2 linked regions of the Homo sapiens genome follow. The protein of the gene in region 2 purifies or fractionates together with the protein of the main gene of each other region. This does not show direct contact. Each region holds a gene or a part of one and is shown on either strand. Other genes may lie near its edges.

The links. Proteins that work in one complex are often made in the same cells at the same time.
Region 1: the proteins of PIP5K1B (region 2) and APAF1 purify together in Homo sapiens (affinity purification with mass spectrometry; one large-scale study listed by BioGRID and IntAct). This does not show direct contact.

Annotation. Positions count from the first base shown.
Region 1 is NC_000012.12:98,732,290-98,735,933, forward strand, and holds the end of APAF1 (apoptotic protease-activating factor 1), read left to right. Parts: intron 1-130; coding exon 131-277; 3' UTR 278-3,144; downstream 3,145-3,644. UniProt on the Homo sapiens protein: Oligomeric Apaf-1 mediates the cytochrome c-dependent autocatalytic activation of pro-caspase-9 (Apaf-3), leading to the activation of caspase-3 and apoptosis. This activation requires ATP. Isoform 6 is less effective in inducing apoptosis.
Region 2 is NC_000009.12:69,005,740-69,009,239, reverse strand, and holds the end of PIP5K1B (phosphatidylinositol 4-phosphate 5-kinase type-1 beta), read right to left. Parts: intron 794-3,500; coding exon 791-793; coding exon of another isoform or gene 787-790; 3' UTR 64-786; downstream 1-63. UniProt on the Homo sapiens protein: Catalyzes the phosphorylation of phosphatidylinositol 4-phosphate (PtdIns(4)P/PI4P) to form phosphatidylinositol 4,5-bisphosphate (PtdIns(4,5)P2/PIP2), a lipid second messenger that regulates several cellular processes such as signal transduction, vesicle trafficking, actin cytoskeleton dynamics, cell adhesion, and cell motility.

The DNA.
Region 1 (3,644 bases), on a different chromosome or scaffold from region 2:
CGAGACATTTTCCTCCTGTTTGCTTGAGTTCGGTTGGGGGGAGGAGATAGGGTAAAGGATCTGCTGGCACTATAAATTGTCACACAGTGTAATTACCAATCTAATGAGAATTTTATTTTTCTCTGAACAGTGGTGGAACGTTGTCACTGGGGAATCCTCACAGACCTTCTACACAAATGGAACCAATCTTAAGAAAATACACGTGTCCCCTGACTTCAAAACATATGTGACTGTGGATAATCTTGGTATTTTATATATTTTACAGACTTTAGAATAAAATAGTTAAGCATTAATGTAGTTGAACTTTTTAAATTTTTGAATTGGAAAAAAATTCTAATGAAACCCTGATATCAACTTTTTATAAAGCTCTTAATTGTTGTGCAGTATTGCATTCATTACAAAAGTGTTTGTGGTTGGATGAATAATATTAATGTAGCTTTTTCCCAAATGAACATACCTTTAATCTTGTTTTTCATGATCATCATTAACAGTTTGTCCTTAGGATGCAAATGAAAATGTGAATACATACCTTGTTGTACTGTTGGTAAAATTCTGTCTTGATGCATTCAAAATGGTTGACATAATTAATGAGAAGAATTTGGAAGAAATTGGTATTTTAATACTGTCTGTATTTATTACTGTTATGCAGGCTGTGCCTCAGGGTAGCAGTGGCCTGCTTTTTGAACCACACTTACCCCAAGGGGGTTTTGTTCTCCTAAATACAATCTTAGAGGTTTTTTGCACTCTTTAAATTTGCTTTAAAAATATTGTGTCTGTGTGCATAGTCTGCAGCATTTCCTTTAATTGACTCAATAAGTGAGTCTTGGATTTAGCAGGCCCCCCCACCTTTTTTTTTTGTTTTTGGAGACAGAGTCTTGCTTTGTTGCCAGGCTGGAGTGCAGTGGCGCGATCTCGGCTCACCACAATCGCTGCCTCCTGGGTTCAAGCAATTCTCCTGCCTCAGCCTCCCGAGTAGCTGGGACTACAGGTGTGCGCACATGCCAGGCTAATTTTTGTATTTTTAGTAGAGACGGGGTTTCACCATGTTGGCCGGGATGGTCTCGATCTCTTGACCTCATGATCTACCCGCCTTGGCCTCCCAAAGTGCTGAGATTACAGGCGTGAGCCACCGTGCCTGGCCAGGCCCCTTCTCTTTTAATGGAGACAGGGTCTTGCACTATCACCCAGGCTGGAGTGCAGTGGCATAATCATACCTCATTGCAGCCTCAGACTCCTGGGTTCAAGCAATCCTCCTGCCTCAGCCTCCCAAGTAGCTGAGACTACAGGCACGAGCCACCACACCCAGCTAATTTTTAAGTTTTCTTGTAGAGACAGGGTCTCACTATGTTGTCTAGGCTGGTCTTGAACTCTTGGCCTCAAGTAATCCTCCTGCCTCAGCCTCCCAAAGTGTTGGGATTGCAGATATGAGCCACTGGCCTGGCCTTCAGCAGTTCTTTTTGTGAAGTAAAACTTGTATGTTGGAAAGAGTAGATTTTATTGGTCTACCCTTTTCTCACTGTAGCTGCTGGCAGCCCTGTGCCATATCTGGACTCTAGTTGTCAGTATCTGAGTTGGACACTATTCCTGCTCCCTCTTGTTTCTTACATATCAGACTTCTTACTTGAATGAAACCTGATCTTTCCTAATCCTCACTTTTTTCTTTTTTAAAAAGCAGTTTCTCCACTGCTAAATGTTAGTCATTGAGGTGGGGCCAATTTTAATCATAAGCCTTAATAAGATTTTTCTAAGAAATGTGAAATAGAACAATTTTCATCTAATTCCATTTACTTTTAGATGAATGGCATTGTGAATGCCATTCTTTTAATGAATTTCAAGAGAATTCTCTGGTTTTCTGTGTAATTCCAGATGAGTCACTGTAACTCTAGAAGATTAACCTTCCAGCCAACCTATTTTCCTTTCCCTTGTCTCTCTCATCCTCTTTTCCTTCCTTCTTTCCTTTCTCTTCTTTTATCTCCAAGGTTAATCAGGAAAAATAGCTTTTGACAGGGGAAAAAACTCAATAACTAGCTATTTTTGACCTCCTGATCAGGAACTTTAGTTGAAGCGTAAATCTAAAGAAACATTTTCTCTGAAATATATTATTAAGGGCAATGGAGATAAATTAATAGTAGATGTGGTTCCCAGAAAATATAATCAAAATTCAAAGATTTTTTTTGTTTCTGTAACTGGAACTAAATCAAATGATTACTAGTGTTAATAGTAGATAACTTGTTTTTATTGTTGGTGCATATTAGTATAACTGTGGGGTAGGTCGGGGAGAGGGTAAGGGAATAGATCACTCAGATGTATTTTAGATAAGCTATTTAGCCTTTGATGGAATCATAAATACAGTGAATACAATCCTTTGCATTGTTAAGGAGGTTTTTTGTTTTTAAATGGTGGGTCAAGGAGCTAGTTTACAGGCTTACTGTGATTTAAGCAAATGTGAAAAGTGAAACCTTAATTTTATCAAAAGAAATTTCTGTAAATGGTATGTCTCCTTAGAATACCCAAATCATAATTTTATTTGTACACACTGTTAGGGGCTCATCTCATGTAGGCAGAGTATAAAGTATTACCTTTTGGAATTAAAAGCCACTGACTGTTATAAAGTATAACAACACACATCAGGTTTTAAAAAGCCTTGAATGGCCCTTGTCTTAAAAAGAAATTAGGAGCCAGGTGCGGTGGCACGTGCCTGTAATCCCAGCTCCTTGGGAGGCTAAGACAGGAGGATTCCTTGAGCCCTGGAGTTTGAGTCCAGCCTGGGTGACATAGCAAGACCCTGTCTTAAAAGAAAAATGGGAAGAAAGACAAGGTAACATGAAGAAAGAAGAGATACCTAGTATGATGGAGCTGCAAATTTCATGGCAGTTCATGCAGTCGGTCAAGAGGAGGATTTTGTTTTGTAGTTTGCAGATGAGCATTTCTAAAGCATTTTCCCTTGCTGTATTTTTTTGTATTATAAATTACATTGGACTTCATATATATAATTTTTTTTTACATTATATGTCTCTTGTATGTTTTGAAACTCTTGTATTTATGATATAGCTTATATGATTTTTTTGCCTTGGTATACATTTTAAAATATGAATTTAAAAAATTTTTGTAAAAATAAAATTCACAAAATTGTTTTGAAAAACATTTTTGGATTGTTTCATTCTTTGCTTGTCATTTATCTGTTGATTAGACCACTAAAGTGAAGGATTCAAGCTAAATACATCAACCTTTCTATTTAGGCTTTATCAGCTATATGTAAATTCAATTCTATCAAAATTTTCTGAGTGCCTCCTCAGTGTGTCTCTCTGATGGTTCCTGCCCGGTATGGCTGGCATGAAGAAGATCCTGTAAAAAAGAGAATTCATTTATTTATTCACTTAGTTTGTTCATGCATTTGTTTAATAAATATTGAGATGTACCATGTGCCTGGCATTGTGGTAGGTATTGGGAACACAGGAGTGAGCAAAACAAAAGTCTTGCTCTACTGCAGTTAAGGGCCAGGGAGAGGCAGAAAAAGTAAATAAGTAAAATCTATAGTGAATTTGGTGGTATGTACAAGCGGAGGGGAAGGGGTTACGGTTTTAGATGGACTGGCTCTTTCAGAAGCTGACACTTGTACAGACCTGAAAGATGTGAGGAAGTGA
Region 2 (3,500 bases):
TTATTTTTAATAAAAGAAGAAATGGAAAGACCATAAATCACTGGAATCGATGTACCACCACAATTGAGAACAAAATATTTTATTTCTCTCACAAAACTATAGTTTACAGTAGTATTTACTAAATAAATTATATAATTTCTCTTTTACAAGCAATAAACTAGATCACAAATATTTCAAAGACAATGTATGTACACGACATAAGGCCTTTTATAAATAGCTTTGCTTTTCTCATTTCACTAGTAAACAGTGAAAAAATCTTTATAGAAGCTAGTTTTCTATAAAGTGAAGGCAGACCTAGTATATTGATCTTTAAATGAAACCAATTTAAACTTTCAATGACATGAACTATAATTTTGCAAAAGAATTTATACTTAATTTACCATGTGTGTGGATGGATTTTTAAAAATATATAAGCAGATTACATATGTTGCTTATGTATAATCACTGGATGCATGCACAATGAAATAATGCAAAAGTCCATAGGAAAATAGCACTTCCAACTCCAAAAAGGTGATTGGCAATGGTACAGAAAGCAGCTTAAATATAGTTCATGCAGTTCTTCACAGTTCAGCAAGCAACAGCAAATGATAGAATAGGGTAGTATTTTTCACATCCCATCTGCTGATCAGCCTGAAGTTGACATCTTGAAAACTCTTAAGTCAGGTTGATGATTTCTCTGTGTGTAGTGGGGCTCAGCCAAGTTGCTGTGGATAATTCTGGTGCGGAGAAACTTCTCTGCCATAACTGTGCTCACGTCTCATCCATGTGCTTAGGTGATCACCATTTTCACTTACTGGGGGGAGCAAAAAAGCAGGTGTGAGACTAGATTTTGGCATCAATTTGTAACCTCTCCCCATGAGTCGCAACATAAGTTCGTTATTTCTCCCAATCACTTGTGTCTGGAAAATGGGGTGCATTATGTTTGGGATTCTTCTGCAATGATCAGCATAGCATATACTTCTTTGGTGGACCTGAAACCTGTTAATTACACCAATGTTTATCAAGATTGAGTCCTGACTACATCACAGCACTGTGCTCGGGACTTGGAAGGAAGCAACACTGACTAAGACACCCTCCTGCCCTCCAAGTGCACAGGGATGAGGGGATGTGCTGTGGTATATTAGATCTGAAGCCAAAAAGAACAACTTGAACATGGCCTTGAACTTGTAAATGTTTTTTTCCAAACAATATCACTGTGGCTGGGTGGTAACAATATGTTCAGCAAATGGTAGCTATTTAAATGGTAGCTATTTAAAATCAGAGCCAGCTAACTCAACCTGTGACAGCAGCACTATGATATATGTGGGGAAAGCAATATTATATTCAGCCTTTAGAGACAGACACATTGGGTCAAATCATCTGATTTCCTATTTTTTTTTTTTTTAGATGGAGTCTCACTCTGTTGCCCAGGCTGGAGTGCAGTGGCAAGATCTCAGCTCACCGCAACCTCTGCCTCCCACGTACATGAGATTCTCCTGCCTCAGCCTCCCGAGTAGCTGGGACTACAGCTGCCTGCCATCACGCCTGGCTAATTTTTTGTATTTTTAGTAGAGATGGGGTTTCACTGTGTTAGCCAGGATGGTCTTGAACTCCTGACCTAGTGATCCGCCCACCTTGGCCTCCCAAAGTGCTGGGATTACAGGCGTGAGCCACCTCACCCGGCCTGATTTCCTAATTATTTCATCTGTAGAATATTATGCAACATCTTCTTGGAACCTTGTTGTTTCATCTATAAAGTGGAGGTAACAAACTCTACTTTATAGGGTGGTGGTGAGGGATAAATTTTTCCATGGGGAAAATGAAGTGTTTTACACACACACGATATACACAAATCATATATTTATAATTGAGTACTGTACCTGGCATGTGCTAGTACCCCCAAAATTGTAGTGAAGAAGGTTGGAGCTGGGGGTCACAGAGACTGGTGCAGCTCAGCACCTTTAATTGGAGGCTTGAAAAAACTTGAGTAAAAAGTTTGAAATAACTGAAAATTATTAGGAAAGAGAACATGTCACATACAGGGAATTCTGTTTAACAATTAATATTTTATCTGAGACTATTGTGCACTGTAATTTTTATGAACTTACTATTTTGTTTTATACGTTGGCCGCTCCCTCTCATTCACCTAAGCTAGAAAGGTTTGCTTGGCTAAATGCACAACATGGTCACGCTGTTACTCAAAAATAATCTGTAGGAAGAGGTGAGTGTAAGGTGCTATAAGCTATAGCAGTGGGCAAGTGGGACGTTGCCCACATTCCCAGGATAGCTGTCTTTAAGGTGGACTGGTGGATTTCATTCAGCCTCAGTCTGATAACTTTGATGTATGGTGCAGGTCTCTCACAAAACCAGTGACATACAAAACAACCCACATAAAATGATGAGGTCCTACTGATTAGATTTAGAAGTCCTGCGTTCTTAAAAAACAAAGCAGAATAAAAACAAAAAGAGGTGATAGTTTTGCTTTCCTCGTTCTATAGATCACACTGGAGTTCTGTGTCTCATTTCCAGTGCCAGACTCTGAGAGGGACAGTGAGTAACCTGAGTGATGCCTGAGGAGATCCACCAGTGAAGGGCCCTGGAGCCAGGACCCCAGGGGAATGGCTAAAGGCCTGGGCTTTTTGGTCTAGAAAATAGGAGAGGTAGAGACAGGGCATAATAGTTGTCTTTGAGTCTCTGAAGACTAGCCTCAGGGAAGAAAGGCTTAGGTATTAGTTTAGTCCCGGTATTGCTGAAAGATGTGACACTGTCACCAGCAATAGTGGCACAGATGCTGTGATCCTGGGGTCGGGAGGTGAGTGGAATCTCAGAATGTGTGAAGGGCGTAGAGTTGTAAAGCTGCACCCCCTCCACTCTTTCTTCATTAAGGATCCTGAAATTTATGTCCTCCCCCAGCACATGTCATGTGTACATGACGCAAGCCCTCCCTAGATACAAGGGCCCAGCATGCCATCTGCTGAGACTCAGTGGTTGAGAATGATCCCAGAAGCCAGAACCCAGGACAACTGCATGGAAGCCAGTTTTTTCTCAAGCTAGAAGTGCTTTTTAACCGGAGTAAAAAAAATGAGTGGGCTGGGTATGATGGGTCACGTCTATAATCCCAGCACTTTGTGGGGCTGAGCCCAGGAGTTCAAGAACAGCCTTGGCCACATAGTGAGACCCTGTCTCTACAAAAATAAAAAATAAAATAAAATAATTAGCTGGGTGTGGTGGCATGTGCCTGTGGTCCCAGCTACTCAGGAGGCTAAGGTGGGAGGATTGCTTAAGCCCAGGAGTTTGAGGCTATAGTGAGCTATGATCACACTGCTGCATTCCAGCCTGGGTGACGGAGAGAGACCCTGTCTCTAAAGAAAAAAAAAAAGAAAGAAATGAGTGGTCACTAAAGAAGGAGCAGTTGCTGTCACTTAGGGATCAGCCCCAGGAGAGCTGAGGCAGAAACTGTTTATCCTGACCCAGCACCCAGAAGGCACAGTAGAGAGGACTTGGGCACTTGTGGGTAGCTT